Homo sapiens: one gene and its partner. The protein of the gene in region 1 interacts with the protein of each later gene in a biochemical or structural test. Each region holds a gene or a part of one and is shown in the gene's direction. Other genes may lie near its edges.

The links. The genes of interacting proteins can lie anywhere in the genome.
Region 2: the proteins of TRIM28 (region 1) and CBX5 form a complex in vitro, tested with the Homo sapiens proteins (6 studies listed by BioGRID, with this or other methods).

The regions. Positions count from the first base shown.
Region 1 is NC_000019.10:58,538,896-58,547,597, forward strand, and holds the start of TRIM28 (transcription intermediary factor 1-beta), read left to right. Parts: upstream 1-5,168; 5' UTR 5,169-5,862; coding exon 5,863-6,202; intron 6,203-6,529; coding exon 6,530-6,642; intron 6,643-6,868; coding exon 6,869-7,001; intron 7,002-8,480; coding exon 8,481-8,616; intron 8,617-8,701; coding exon 8,702-8,702. UniProt on the Homo sapiens protein: Nuclear corepressor for KRAB domain-containing zinc finger proteins (KRAB-ZFPs).
Region 2 is NC_000012.12:54,269,412-54,277,311, reverse strand, and holds part of CBX5 (chromobox protein homolog 5), read left to right. Parts: intron 1-7,900. UniProt on the Homo sapiens protein: Component of heterochromatin that recognizes and binds histone H3 tails methylated at 'Lys-9' (H3K9me), leading to epigenetic repression. In contrast, it is excluded from chromatin when 'Tyr-41' of histone H3 is phosphorylated (H3Y41ph).

The DNA.
Region 1 (8,702 bases):
CCACCACGTTTTCAACGCGCTGATAGTCCCTAGGCGGGTTCGCCTCTACCTACAGACCCTGCTTCTCCCCTTAGACATGATTCCTCTCCCCCAGATCCTGCGTCCCTCAGACAGAGTTCTTCTCTCACACACCCTGCTTCCCTCCTCAGACGGGATTCTCCCCCCACACACCCTGCTTCCCTCCTCAGACAGGATTCTCCCCACACACACCCTGCTTCCCTCCTCAGACAGGATTCTTCTCACACACACCCTGCTTCCCTCCTCAGACAGGATTCTCCCCACACACACCCTGCTTCCCTCCTCAGACAGGATTCTCCCCACACAGAACCTGCTTCCCTCCTCAGACAGGATTCTCCCCACACACACCCTGCTTCCCTCCTCAGACAGGATTCTCCCCACACAGAACCTGCTTCCCTCCTCAGACAGGATTCTCCCCACACACACCCTGCTTCCCTCCTCAGACATGATTCTTCTCACACACACCCTGCTTCCCTCAGACAGGATTCTCCCCACACACACTCTGCTTCCCTCCTCAGACAGGATTCTCCCCACACAGAACCTGCTTCCCTCCTCAGACAGGATTCTCCCCACAAACACCCTGCTTCCCTCCTCAGACAGGATTCTCCCCACAGAGACCCTGCTTCCCTCCTCAGACAGGATGCTCCCCACACACACCCTGCTTCCCTCCTCAGACAGGATTCTTCTCACACACACCCTGCTTCCCTCCTCAGACAGGATTCTCCCCACACACACCCTGCTTCCCTCCTCAGACAGGATTCTCCCCACACACACCCCACTTCCCTCAGACAGGATTCTCCCCACACAGACCCTGCTTCCCTCCTCAGACAGGATTTTCCCCACACAGACCCTGCTTCCCTCCTCAGACAGGATTCTCCCCACACAGACCCTGCTTCCCTCCTCAGACAGGGCTCCCCTCCCCACACACCCTGCTTCCCTCCTCAGACAGAGTTCCCCTCCCCACACAGACCCTCTTTCCCTCAGACAGGATTTTCCCCACACAAACCCTACTTTCCTCCTCAGACAGGATTCTCCCCACACAGACTCTGCTTCCCTGAGACAGGATTCTCCCCACACACACCCTGCTTCCCTCCTCAGACAGGATTCTCCCCACACACACCCTGCTTCCCTCCTCAGACAGGATTCTCACCCCACACACCCTGCTTCCCTCCTCAGACAGGATTCTCCCCACACACACCCTGCTTCCTTCCTCAGACAGGATTCTCCCCCCACACACCCTGCTTCCCTCCTCAGACAGGATTCTCCCCCCACACACCCTGCTTCCCTCCTCAGACAGGATTCTTCTCACACACACCCTGCTTCCCTCCTCATACAGGATTCTCCCCACACACACCCTGCTTCCCTCCTCAGACAGGATTCTCCCCACACAGACCCTGCTTCCCTCCTCAGACAGGATTCTCCCCCCACACCCTGCTTCCCTCCTCAGACAGGATTCTCCCCCCACACACCCTGCTTCCCTCCTCAGACAGGATTCTCCCCACACACACCCTGCTTCCCTCCTCAGACAGGGCTCCCCCCACACACCCTGCTTCCCTCCTCAGACAGGATTCTCCCCACACAGACCCTACTTCCCTCCTCAGACAGGATGCTCCCCCCACACACCCTGCTTCCCTCCTCAGACAGGATTCTCCCCCCACACACCCTGCTTCCCACCTCAGACAGGATTCTCCCCCCACACACCCTGCTTCCCTCCTCATACAGGATTCTCCCCACACACACCCTGCTTCCCTCCTCAGACAGGATTCTCCCCCCACACATCCTGCTTCCCTCCTCAGACAGGATTTTCCCCACACAAACCCTACTTTCCTCCTCAGACAGGATTCTCTCCACACAGACCCTGCTTCCCTCAGACAGGATTCTCCCCACACAGACCCTGCTTCCCTCCTCAGGCAGGATTCTCCCCACACAGACCCTGCTTCCCTCCTCAGACAGGATTCTCCCCACACAGACCCTGCTTCCCTCCTCAGACAGGATTCTCCCCACACAGACCCTGCTTCCCTCCTCAGACAGGATTCTCACCCCACACACCCTGCTTCCCTCCTCAGACAGGATTCTCCCCACACACACCCTGCTTCCCTCCTCAGACAGGATTCTCCCCCCACACACCCTGCTTCCCTCCTCAGACAGGATGCTCCCCACACACACCCTGCTTCCTTCCTCAGACAGGATTCTCCCCCCACACACCCTGCTTCCCTCCTCAGACAGGATTCTCCCCCCACACACCCTGCTTCCCTCCTCAGACAGGAAGCTCCCCCCACACACCCTGCTTCCCTCCTCATACAGGATTCTCCCCACACACACCCTGCTTCCCTCCTCAGACAGGATTCTCCCCACACAGACCCTGCTTCCCTCCTCAGACAGGATTCTCCCCCCACACCCTGCTTCCCTCCTCAGACAGGATTCTCCCCCCACACACCCTGCTTCCCTCCTCAGACAGGATTCTCCCCACACACACCCTGCTTCCCTCCTCAGACAGGGCTCCCCCCACACACCCTGCTTCCCTCCTCAGACAGGATTCTCCCCCCACACACCCTGCTTCCCTCCTCAGACAGGATTCTCTCCACACACACCCTGCTTCCCTCCTCAGACAGGATTCTCCCCACACACACCCTGCTTCCCTCCTCAGACAGGATTCTCCCCACAGAGACCCTGCTTCCCTCCTCAGACAGGATTCTCCTCACACACACCCTGCTTCCCTCCTCAGACAGGATTCTCCCCACACACACCCTGCTTCCCTCCTCAGACAGGATTCTCCCCACACACACCCTGCTTCCCTCCTCAGACAGGATTCTCCCCACACACACCCCGCTTCCCTCAGACAGGATTCTCCCCACACAGACCCTGCTTCCCTCCTCAGACAGGATTTTCCCCACACACACCCTGCTTCCCTCCTCAGACAGGATTCTCCCCACACAGACCCTGCTTCCCTCCTCAGACAGGGCTCCCCTCCCCACACAGACCCTCTTTCCCTCAGACAGGATTTTCCCCACACAAACCCTACTTTCCTCCTCAGACAGGATTCTCCCCACACAGACCCTGCTTCCCTCAGACAGGATTCTCCCCACACAGACCCTGCTTCCCTCCTCAGGCAGGATTCTCCCCACACAGACCCTGCTTCCCTCCTCAGACAGGATTCTCCCCACACAGACCCTGCTTCCCTCCTCAGACAGGATTCTCCCCACACAGACCCTGCTTCCCTCCTCAGACAGGATTCTCACCCCACACACCCTGCTTCCCTCCTCAGACAGGATTCTCCCCACACACACCCTGCTTCCCTCCTCAGACAGGATTCTCCCCACACAGACCCTGCTTCCCTCCTCAGACAGGGATTCCCCTCCCCACACAGACCCTCTTTCCCTCAGACAGGATTTTCCCCCCACACACCCTGCTTCCCTCCTCAGACAGGATTCTCCCCACATACACCCTGCTTCCCTCCTCAGACAGGATTCTCCCCACACACACCCTGCTTCCCTCCTCAGACAGGATTCTCCCCACACAGACCCTGCTTCCCTCCTCAGACAGGGCTCCCCTCCCCACACAGACCCTCTTTCCCTCAGACAGGATTTTCCCCACACACACCCTACTTTCCTCCTCAGACAGGATTCTCCCCACACAGACCCTGCTTCCCTCAGACAGGATTCTCCCCACTCAGACCCTGCTTCCCTCCTCAGGCAGGATTCTCCCCACACAGAACCTGCTTCCCTCCTCAGACAGGATTCTCCCCACACACACCCTGCTTCCCTCCTCAGACAGGATTCTCCCCACACACACCCTGCTTCCCTCCTCAGACAGGATTCTCCCCACACAGACGCTGCTTCCCTCCTCAGACAGGATTCTCCCCACACAGACCCTGCTTCCCTCCTCAGACAGGGTTCCCCTCCGCACACACACCCTCTTTCCCTCAGACAGGATTTTCCCCACACAAACCCTACTTTCCACCTCAGACAGGATTCTCCCCACATGGACCTGCTTCCTTCCCTCCTTGGGATTCCCCACTGTTGAGGTTCAGTTTCCCCATCTGGAAAAGCATCAAAGTCAGGGTAGCTGCTGACGAAAACATGGGGAGGGGATGCCTTGGGGGGCTGGGTGGGATTTCACAGACTCATTGCTCTTTAGCCTCTTGTGATTTATATATATGTGTATATATATATATATATTTTTTTTCTTGATGGGGGGTTGGGGGGCCCGGCGTGGTGGCTCACACCTGTAATTCCAGCACTTTGGGAGGCCAAAGTGGGTCTATCATCTGACGTCGGGAGTTCGAGACCAGCCTGGCCAACGTGGTGAAACCCCGTCTCTATTAAAAATACAAAAATTAGCCAGGCGTGATGGCAGGCCCCTGTAATCCCAGCTACTCGGGAGGCTGAGGCAGAAGAATCGCTTGAACCCGGGAGGCGGAGGTTGCAGCGAGCCGAGATCGTGCCACTGCACTCCAGCCTGGGCAACAGAGCAAAACTCCGTCTCAAAACAAACACAAAAACCTTTCTCTCCTCTTTTGAGATGGAGTTTCACTCTTTTCTCCCAGGCTGTAGTGCAATGGCACGATCTCGGCTCACTGCAACCTCCGCCTCCCGGGTTCAAGCGATTCTCCTGCCTCAGCCTCCCGAGTAGCTGGGATTACAGGCGCCTGCCACCACGCCCGGCTACTTTTTGTACTTTTAGTAGAGACGGGGTTTCACCACGTTGGCCAGGCTGCTCTCGAACTCCTGACTTAAGATCCAACCGCCTCGACCTCCCAAAGTGCTGGAATTACAGGCGTGAGCCGCCGCGCCCGGCCACATTTTTCTCCATCTGTGGTCTAGGCTGGCGTGCAGTGGCACAATCCCGCCTCACTGCTGCCTCGGCCTCCTGGGCTAAACGGAGCTTCCCGACTCGCCTAAGAAAGTGGTGGGATTACAGGTATGAGCCACGGCGCCCGGCTGTGATCTACATTTGATTCAGTCAAGTTTCTGTGTTTCTCAAGTTTAACTATAGCGTGGTTAAAATCCAAAAGTCAGCACCCGAGCTCACACAGGAGCTTCCTCCCTCTTGGGATGGAGACTCTCCTCCCCTCTCCCTGGACACAGCCCTTCACTCGGTCTTGGCCCCGCCTACTTCTCCATCGGCCCTGCCCCCTATCCCGAACTCTTAGTGACGCAGAGGCTGGAGACGACTCTACGGCGGCGAAGAGACGCGGGTTGAGGAAGAGGGACGGATTGCCCATGCGCTTGGGCGCACAGCGGCCCGCTTCTGTGTGGTCTGGAGGTGGAGCTGAGAGGGGAATCACACTCTATAAAGGTTCGCATACCCCACTGGCGGATTCAATTGCGGCAGTGACGTCACAGAGGCCCCGCCCCGCCCCCACAAGAGCCCCACCGACGTGGGGTTGGCGGTGGTGGAAGGACTAGGAGTTGGCGCGTGCGTACTGGCGGCCTCTCCCGCACCGACCGGCCTGGGCCCCGCCCCCGGGCGTGAGGCGCCCAATGCGCGTGCGCGGCGGCGTCGGCGCCAGTTATTTCTGTCCCGCCCCCCGGCCTCGGCTCTTTCTGCGAGCGGGCGCGCGGGCGAGCGGTTGTGCTTGTGCTTGTGGCGCGTGGTGCGGGTTTCGGCGGCGGCTGAGGAAGAAGCGCGGGCGGCGCCTTCGGGAGGCGAGCAGGCAGCAGTTGGCCGTGCCGTAGCAGCGTCCCGCGCGCGGCGGGCAGCGGCCCAGGAGGCGCGTGGCGGCGCTCGGCCTCGCGGCGGCGGCGGCGGCAGCGGCCCAGCAGTTGGCGGCGAGCGCGTCTGCGCCTGCGCGGCGGGCCCCGCGCCCCTCCTCCCCCCCTGGGCGCCCCCGGCGGCGTGTGAATGGCGGCCTCCGCGGCGGCAGCCTCGGCAGCAGCGGCCTCGGCCGCCTCTGGCAGCCCGGGCCCGGGCGAGGGCTCCGCTGGCGGCGAAAAGCGCTCCACCGCCCCTTCGGCCGCAGCCTCGGCCTCTGCCTCAGCCGCGGCGTCGTCGCCCGCGGGGGGCGGCGCCGAGGCGCTGGAGCTGCTGGAGCACTGCGGCGTGTGCAGAGAGCGCCTGCGACCCGAGAGGGAGCCCCGCCTGCTGCCCTGTTTGCACTCGGCCTGTAGTGCCTGCTTAGGGCCCGCGGCCCCCGCCGCCGCCAACAGCTCGGGGGACGGCGGGGCGGCGGGCGACGGCACCGGTAAGTACGAAGTGATCGGTGCCACCCCTCCCCCTACTCTCTGCCTTTGATTCCGACTGGGTGCAGAGATGAGGATGCCACCTGGGCGAGAGGATGGGGGCCCGGACAGGGCACGGGAAATACTTTCTGGGTCCTGCATACGAACGTGGGTTTGTGCTGGCCGCTGAGATGGGACATCTGACTAAAGTTGGAGAAAAGAAGGCTCGGGGAGGGGAGGGGCTGGTTCGCTGCGGGATAATGGTCGGGGGCCCACCCAGCAGGGGAATGGTGGGGGCCATAACCTGGGTGGGAACTTGTAACAGTCTCCCACATCCCTGCTTCTCGAAGTGGTGGACTGTCCCGTGTGCAAGCAACAGTGCTTCTCCAAAGACATCGTGGAGAATTATTTCATGCGTGATAGTGGCAGCAAGGCTGCCACCGACGCCCAGGATGCGAACCAGGTGCGTCCTATCTCAGCAACCACAAGGAGGTTTCTGGGGAGGGGGCATCTGCGCAGGAGGAGCTTGGCACCAGCTCCAGGCTGTTACTCCACTTTCCCAAGGCTCTGGGTGGGCTGCCTAGGTTGGGTCAAGGGACCAATCTTAAATCTCCGGTTGTATTTTCTGGGATGTAAACGTGGATCTATCAAGTTGTCTTGCCTTCTCTGACCCTGCCTTTGTCTGGCAGTGCTGCACTAGCTGTGAGGATAATGCCCCAGCCACCAGCTACTGTGTGGAGTGCTCGGAGCCTCTGTGTGAGACCTGTGTAGAGGCGCACCAGCGGGTGAAGTACACCAAGGACCATACTGTGCGCTCTACTGGTACATGAGGCTGAGGGGGGCTGTTGGAGTTGTTCTCCCATGTGTGCCCTCAGTTGCTTTTATGATGTTGGTTGCATCTGGTGGATGGGTCCTAGAGTTCTCTAGGGGGTGCCGCCCGAAGGGCCCGAGGGCAGAACTCCAGAAGCAGAAAAACTGGGGTTGTGGTGTGTAGTCTCTAGGGCCTAGGTGGGAGAGGGTGGGAAGGGGAAATAAGGGAGACCTTAATGTGCTGCAGGGAGGTACAAAGGGTTTGAGAAGGCTTATCAGGGAGTTGTCAGACCTGGTGGTGAAGGGCTCAGCATATGCAAACAGGGAAAGGCATGGTGTGAAGGGCTTTCTGGGTTTGTGGTTCCCTGGCACACATCTGGTATAAGATGCTGCTAGGGAAAGTAGACTGTGGGTCCATGGATTATAAGTGATGATGATTTTTGGAAGTGTTTTAGCTTTTGAGTTGGCAGAGACTTACCCAAAGTTTGGTTTGGCATTTCCAGCTTTTCACAGACACAGCTAGCTTTGGTTTGGAAGGAGCTTGAGAGTCTTTTGAGTCTAGCCAAGTTTTGGGGCCAGAATCCTCCCATGAGTGGCCTTTTGGTAGCCATACTGTGATTCTTCCCATCCCAGAGGACAGCATTGGTGGAAGATAGCGGGAAGGTGGTGGCTGTGGGGCCTGAGCAGCCAGGAGGGATACGCAGGGGCTGCAGGGTGTCCTACATTCCAGACGTCCCAGGCAAAGGTCAGGGTGCAGGAATGAGTGGCATTGGGGAAGTCAGTTTCCCCAATGAGCCCTGATGCTACATATTTTGGATTTGGTTGGTATGTGGGACCAGTGTGTTTGATCAGTTTTCTAATGGGGAGACAGGCTTTGGAGGTTATTAATGGGTTGGTCTTTGGGTGGGATTATGCTGAGCACCAAGATTCTGCTCTAGAGGGGGTGTGACCACCATTCTGAGGGTCCTGGTTTGACATTTCATCTCTCCCAGTATGAGAACCTCTACAAGGTTTCCTCTGGGCCCTTGGATTGTAAGAGACCCTGGTGTTCTCTTGTCAGGGAAGAGGGAGGAAGTTAACCATGAAAGGAGAAGAAAAGGAATCCAGGGTGGTGTGTAGGCAGAATTCTGAGTATGTCCACTTGGAGAAGTGTTCAGTAAAGGGAACAGTGTGGGGAAGGGTCAGCGGGGGTGGGGGGTGGGGTGGGGTGGTCCTCTTTTTCTAGACGCTGTTATCCTTACCCTTACATTGTTGTTATCTCTAGAAGCTAGAAGAAAGGGATGTGTTTCTCAGCTATGTTGGGGCAGAGGATTCTGGGAGCAAGGAGTTGGGCTTGCAGGCCTGTGTTCTTCCCTGGCCACACCCTCTACATCTTCCCAATAAATGGCCCAGTGTCACAGAACAGGCCGGAAATGAGGCCCCAACTCATTCTGCTTCCTGAGTTGGGGGTGGTGAAGGGCAAGGTCCAGCCTTATGATTCCCACTCCCCAGGGCCAGCCAAGTCTCGGGATGGTGAACGTACTGTCTATTGCAACGTACACAAGCATGAACCCCTTGTGCTGTTTTGTGAGAGCTGTGATACTCTCACCTGCCGAGACTGCCAGCTCAATGCCCACAAGGACCACCAGTGAGTCCCAAGGCATAGTGGTTGGGTGGGTGGGTGCCACCCCTTCCGTAGCTTAGTGCTCAGGAACACATCTGTCTGCTCTCAGG
Region 2 (7,900 bases), on another chromosome or scaffold:
GAATTGCTTGAACCCAGGAAGCAGAGGTTGCAGTGAGCCGAGATTGCGCCACTGCACTCCAGCCTGGGCGACAAAGCAAGAGTCCGTCTCAAAACAAAAAAACCCACAATAATTAGCCAGTCATGGTGGTGGGCGCCTGTAATCCCAGCTACTCAGGAGGCTGAGACGGGATAATCGCTTGAACCTGGGAGGCAGAGTTTGCAGTGAGCCGAGATGATGCCACTGCACCCCAGTCTGGGCGACAGAGTGAGACCTTGTCTCAGAAAAAAAAAGTTTTTACCACTTTTTGCTGCTTAAACTTACACATACGATTGATTGCATCTTGTCCTTGTTTGGCTTCCTAAAATAATGGCAAATATGTTTTTGAAGAAGGTAGACTTTGCCTCACATCCTTCTTTTTCACTTGATTCTAGCTAGCCTCTTTCTTTTCCTGGGATTCTTTTGGATCCACGTCTCAAAACTTTTTTGACCGCAATAAGAAATATATTTTACACTAATCCTGTACACACATTGAAACATTTCACTAAACGTGCAGAGTACTCTGATATTCTTTTGTCTGCAGTATACTATTTCATTGTCTTAAGAAAGCAGTCAATTTCCATTGAACTGATTTCACAGCTGTTTATAGACCCAGGGTTTTGGGGGAAAAAGACTGCTGATCTGAAGAATAGGTCACCAAATCATGCCAACTTTGATTGCTTTCTGAGTCAGTTCCTTCCATCTCCAGCCCCAGCCACTTGTACAGATGGTCCCTTGCTTGTGATATTTCGACTTAAGATTTTTCACCTTTACAACGGTGTGGAAAGCAATTTGCATTCAGTAGAAACCATATTTCAAGTATCCACATAACCATTCTGTTTTTCACTTTCGGTACAGTAATCAACCAATTACATGAGATATTCAACACTTTATTATAAAACAGGCTTTGTGTTAGGTGATTTTGTCCAACAGTAGGCTAATGTAAGTATTCTGAACACATTTAAGGTAGGCTAGGCTAAGCTATGATGTTCAGTAGATTAGGTGTAGGAAATGAATTTTCAATTTTTCATATTTTCAACCTATGATGGGTTTATCAGGACATAACCCCATCAAGGAGTATCTATGTAAACAGATTAAGCAGTGACCCATTATTTGGTGTTTTTACTCATGTGTTTTACTTTGAAAGATTATAGGAGCCAAACCGAGACTTTCTAGTTTACTGTCGTGTGCAAGTGAAAACTGCTTGTTTTATTGTGAAGTCTCACAATGCTTAAAGAGGGAAAACAATAAAAATATTGCAAAATGTCTCCCAATGTGATAGGTTTTTTTTTTTTTTTTTTTTGGAATGGAGTCTCGCTCTTGTTGCCCAGTCTGGAGTGCGGTGGCACGATCTTGACTCACCTCAACCTCCGCCTCCCAGGTTCAAGCAATTCTCCTGCTCCAGCCTCCTGAGTAGCTGGGATTACAGGCATACGTCCGGCTAATTTTTAGTAGAGACGGGGTTTCTCCATGTTGGTTAGGCTGGCCTCAAACTCCTGACCTTAGGTGATCTGCCTGCCTTGGCCTCCCAAAGTGCTGGGATTACAGGTGTGAGCCACTGTGCCCAGCCTCCAATGTGGTAGTTAATAGATATGATGAACTTTTCTCTCTGGTGGTGAAATTTTAGTGGGTAATTTTTCATTGAAATTCTGGTACTATCACAGAGTTAGAAATCCTAACTTCCAATGTGATACGTGTTGGGCCTCTAATTACAGAAGTTATAACGCTTGTGCTTAGAACTTAGAGACATACTGCCTGGGCGCAGTGGCTTATGCCTGTAATCCCAGCACTTTGGGAGGCCGAGGCGGGCAGATCATGAGTTCAGGAGATTGAGACCATCCTGGCTAACACGGTGAAACCCCATCTCCGCTAAAAATACAAAAAATTAGCCGGGCGTGGTGGCACACGCCTGTAGCCCCAGCTACTCTGGAGGCTGAGGCAGGAGAATTGCTGAGCCTGGGAGGCGGAGGTTACAGTGAGCCGAGATTGCACCACTGTACTCCAGCCTGGGTGACAGAGCGAGACTGTCTCAAAAAAGAAAAAAAAACTTAGAGACATACCTACTATTGCAACCAAATCTAAAAGGGGTGTTTACTAAAGGGGAATATATTCTGTCTGAAAACTAGTAAGTGGAAAGCTTCAATTTGGGTAGTAGGTGAGCAGGATGATAGTTGGGGAAAGAAAGAGTGAGCCTACATTTGAAGCGGCTGGATTTGTATATGGCTAGGGAAATTCTGGAGATTCTCAGAGCCCTTAACAATACTCTAGAAAAGAGAAAGGTTTGGTATCAGGGTACAAAGATTTTTGAGGAAGACTAAGTCGCTTTTTGTTTCTATTGAGATTTGTTTGTTTTTGAGACAGAGTCGCGCTCTGTCACCCAGGCTAGAGTGCAGTGGCGTGATCTCGGCTCACTGCAACCTCTGCCTCCCGGATTCAAGCGATCCTCCTGCCTCAGCCTCCCGAGTAGCTGGGACTACAGGCACGTGCCACCATGCCTGGCTAATTTTTTTGTATTTTTAGTAGAGACAGGATTTCACCGTGTTAGCCAGGATGGTCTCAATCTACTGACCTCATGATCCAACCGCCTCGGCCTCCCAAAGTGTTAGAATTACAGGCATGAGCCACTGTGCCCGGCTCTATTGAGGTCTTTAACCACATAGCATGATTTCCATATCTTATTGGTATAGCCCATTTAATTAATAACTGTCCTGGTAAAGCATTTCTAGTCTTTATTTTGTCCTTTTACTTAGATTATTTTTATTTCCATTCATCTTACATGAAACTGGGCCTAAAGCTGTGTTATGGATATTGATTTTAAAAGTAATAAATTACAACATGAGATACCACTTGACTTAGTATGGCTGTTTACATATCTGCTATTCGTGAACTCGGACTCTGGGCAATCATCTTTTTCTCCTGATATAAACTTTTATTTTTCTTCCTTGCTTATAGAGAATGATTTTAACTGATCATTGTACTAATAGGAAGGAGTCCAGGTCATCCTGAGAAGAGTTCGCTTGTCCAGAGTCCAAGATGCAGATTTGTTGGATTTCTGTAAGCCACTCGAAGCCACATATTCATTTCTGATGACAGCTTTACACTTGTGCTGGAAGAACACCCACTGTGACAACTGCTGCCTATGTTTAGTCTGTCCAGGAGCTCTACCAACTAGCATGTTTGCAGAAAAACCTACACTGTTCTTGTTAGCAGCTATGTAAATATTAGATCTTTCTGAGTTTCTCTTCTCAGATCTGCCAATTTCTTTGGGGCAAATTGTATCCTGCAGTAGCCTCAATTTACCCTTTGAAATGAGGGATTAAAGGTTTTAGACATTCTTTGGGTTATCTGAAACACAATTCTTTTTGGATCAGTAATGTTTTATATATGTCCACTTTATGATGTTTAAAATTTTATTCCCCCTATGTATTAGTTTCCTGTGGCTGCTATAACAAATTACCACAGACTTGGTGGTTTAAAACAAGAGGAATTTATTCTTCTCAAAATTTTGGAGCCCAGAAGTCTGCAATCAAGATATTGAGGCCCCTCTGGAGGCTCTAGGAGAGAGACTGTTCTTTGCCTCTTTTAGCTTCTGATTATGGTCAGCATTCCTTGGCATATCTCTCTGTTCTGTTTTCACATTGTCTTCTCTTTTGAGTACTTGCATCAGAACTCTCCCTCTACCTGTGTATTATAAGGATACATATGATTGCAATTAAGAAACCACTTGGATGAACCAGGATAAATTTCTCCAATCCTATCTTTTAATTCAACCTGAGAGAGCAGATTTAAAATATATTTTATTCCTAAAGTGGCAGGTCCCTGAAAAAAAAATGTAGATTCATGTTTATTTTGAGACAGAGTCTCGCTTTGTCACCCAGTCTGGAGTGCATTGGTGTGATTTTGGCTCACTGCAACCTCCGCCTCCCAGGTTCAAGCTATTCTCCTGCCTCAGCCTCCTGAGTAGCTGGGATTACAGGTGCCTGCCACCGTGCCCGGCTAATTTATGTATTTTTGATAGAGACAGGATTTCACCAGTTTGCCAGGCTGGTCTAGAACCCTTGACATCAGGTGATCCGCCTGCCTCAGCCTCCCAAAGTGCTGGGATTACAGGCATAAGTCACCGCGCCCGGCCGGATTCATCTTTTAATCACATCTTTTGCTATATAAAATAACATTTACAGGTTCAAGGGATTAAGATAAGAATCTCTTTGGGGGAGGGCCATCATTCAGACCACTACACATTGGTTCCCTAACCTCTACCCAAATAGATTTGAGCTAATTCAGAAAAGAAAATGTTATTTTTAAAGAAACAGAGGCAAGTGAAAAAAGGCTCAGAAACCTGGGTTCTTGTCCTGCCTCTGCCATTATCTAATGGTGTAACCATGGGTGAGCCATTTGCCCTCTTTAGTCCTTAGTTTCTTTATCTTATAGGGAAGGAGTTGGATAAGTGATCGTTAACAAGCCTTCTAGACCTAAGACTTTATGAAGTGATTCCTAAGTCATCTTGGAGTTTGTTTTTTAAGTCAATAATTTAAAATGTGAATCAAAACATTACAAATTACAACATTTTGGGTGAGGGTAGTCCTGTTCTTGCCTAGGACTTGAAGGATGGAAGACTGAGCTGTTGGCTGACTGTCAACTCCTTGGGGTATTAACACAGGATAACTAACCTGTATTTGTTAGCTGTGTGCTTAAACCTTTCTGAAGAAAAGATTTTCTACAAGGGATGTAATAGACTAGCTGGAACATTTTCACTACATTTTTAGTGAGACTATAGACTGTGTAGCCTGAATTTTCTTTCCAGTAGTAGTAGTTCATCAAAATTAAACACTGACAGATTTTTTTCTACCTGAAACTAGGTCATAGAGTAAAAATTTTCACTTGCAGTCTTACTCTTCAGACTCACTGAATGCCTGTTCCATCCTGTTTCATTGCTAGGAAGGACACTAGATAAAGCCATGAGCTTGAGATGGTGTACTTGAAAGGACCGTTTCAAGATCAGGTTTTATAACACACTCATTATTTATTTCTTCTGTGGAGAGGAGAAACCAAATTGGATTCAAGTATTTTTCTGATAGTAATCTATGTTTCTTAGAATAAAGCAAGTTCATATCTGAGCCAGAGGGCATAATTATGTCAGAATAAAATATAATTATGTCGGAATAAAATGCCCTGTACTAAAGAGGTCAACTAACAGGCTGGGAAATCTTAAGTTTTGTTTTTAAGACAAATCCTTGAACTCTCTGTGCCTCGTTTCTCATCCCTAAATCTGTGCAACTCACCTCACAGGGAGTTGTGGAGGGTAATATACTGCTAATTTGTTCAGTGTTTCACAACAATAAATTATGCCTAAGATCTGATAAAACATAGCAAACCTCATTTATGTAAGTAGAGACAAGCATGGATAAGACTTACAGATAATAAAGAAAATTCATTAAAATTTTTTTAACTTCCTTGATTATTAAACATTTTTCCTTCTGTTTCCTATATATTTTCCAAAGTATTTTCCTATTGTTTTTCCATAATAGACTTATGAGATAGGGCAAATAACAAACACCAGGTTATATAATAAATGAATAAATTCATCAAGCGGACATAACAATCCTAAATGTCCTAAAAGCTAATAATAAAGCTTCAACATACACAAAGGAAAACAGAAATGAAGTAACAAGCCAGGTGCAGTGGCTCACGCCTGTAATCCCAGCACTTTGGGAGGCTGAGGTGGGTGGATTACCTGAGGTCAGGAGTTCCAGATCAGCCTGGCCAACATGGTGAAACCCTGTCTACTAAAAATACAAAAATTATCTGGGCATGGTGGCGTGCGCCTGTAATCCCAGCTACTTGGGAGGCTGAGGCAGGAGAATCGCTTGAACCTGGGAGGTGGAGGTTGCAGTGAGCGGAGATCGCGCCACTGCACTCCAGCCTGGGTGACAGAGCAAGACTCCGTCTCAAAAAAAGAAAAGAAAAAGGAAATAACAGACATCTGCAATTATATTTGGAAATTTCAGTGCCTCTCAGTAATTGATAAAACAGGTAGATGAAATCAGTAAGGAAACGGAAGACTTGAACAACACTACCAACAACCTGATATAATTGACATTTATAGAATAGTACAAGCAACAGCAGAATACATGTGCTTTTCAGGTGCACATGGAACTTTTACACAGACAGTTTACCTTCTGGGTCAATAAGTCTCAAATTCAAAAGGATTCAATCATAAAGGTTTTTTAAAAAAATTTAAACGGGGTCTTGTTCTGTCACCCAAGCTGGAGTGCAGTGACACAATCAACTCACTGCAGCCTGAAACTCCTGGGCTCAAGTGATCCTCCTGCCTCAGCCTTCTGAAAAGCTGGGACCACTGGCATGTGCCACCATGCTCAGCCACCCACCCTTTTTTCTTTTTTTGTAGAGACAGGGTCTCGTTATGTTGCCCGGATTGGTGTCAGACCCCTGGGCTCAAGTGATCCTCTCATCTCAGCTTCCCAAAGTGCTGGGATTACAGGCATGAGCCACTGTGCTTGGCCAAGGTATGTTTATTTCCTGATCATAGTGCAATTAAATAAAAAATCAGTAACAAAGACATCAAGAAAAATCCCTAAATATTTTGAAATTACACAACACACTTCTAAGTAACCCACCTACAAAGAGGAAATTACAAAGAAAACTAATACTTGGAACTGAATGAAAATGAAAAGATGATATATCAAAACTTTTAGAATGAGGCTAGGTGCTGTGACTGATTCCTGTAAACTCAACGCTTTGAGAAGCTGAGGCGAGAGGATCACTTGAGCTCAGGAGTTCAAGACCAGCCTGGGCAACATAGTGAGACCTAGTCTCTAGAAAAAATTAAAAAGTATCCAGGAGTGGTGGTTTGCCAGTAGTCCCAGCTAGTTGGGAGGCTGAGGTGGGATGCTTACTGGAGCCTGGGAGATCAAGGCTGCAGTGAGCTATGATCCTGCCACTGCACTTGAGCCTGGGTGGCAGAGACCCTATCTCAAAAACAAAACAAAATTGTGGGATGCAGTTAAGGAAGTGCTTAAAGGGAAATTTATAGCATTAAGTACTTTAACAACAAAAGCAGGTCACTGACAGGTTTGGCCCTGTGAACCTAGAAAAAGAACAAATTAAATCCAAAATAAACAAGAAAATAGTAATGATAAAAGCAGCAATTAATGGGATATAGAACAATAGAGAATAGAAAAAAACGGAAAGTTCTTTGAAAAGATCAATAAAATTGATAAATCAGGAAAAAAGATACTAATTAACAATATTAGGAACTAAGGAATATCACTATTGATCCTACAGATAATAAGGGAATATTTTGAAAAACGATACGAATACATTCAATGTCTTAGTTGAAGTTAGTAACTTCCTTGAAGACAAACTACCAAAACTCACTTAAATACAGAACCTTGGGTGGGCATGGAGGCTTACACATGTAATCTCAACATTTTGGGAGGCCAAGAGTTCAAGACCAGCCCAGGAAACATAATGAGACCTCTCTACAGGCAAAAAGAAGAAAACGTCAGAACCTTACTAGCCCTATCTCTATTAAGGAAAAGGGATTTTTAGATAGAAATAATCCCACAAAGAAAACGCCAGGCCCAGGCCAAGCATGATGGCTCATGCCTGTAATCCCAGCACTTTGGGAGGCTGAGGTGGGTGGATCACGAGGTCAGGAGTTCAAGACCAGCCTGGCTAGCATGGTGAAGCCCCGTCTCTACTAAAAATACAAAAATGAGCCAGGCATGGTGGTGTGCTCCTGTAGTCCCAGCTACTCGGGAGGCTGAGGCAGGAGAATCGCTTGAACCTCAGAGGCGGAGGGTGCAGTGAGCTGAGATTGCACCACCGCACTCCAGCCTGGGCAACAGAGCAATCTCTG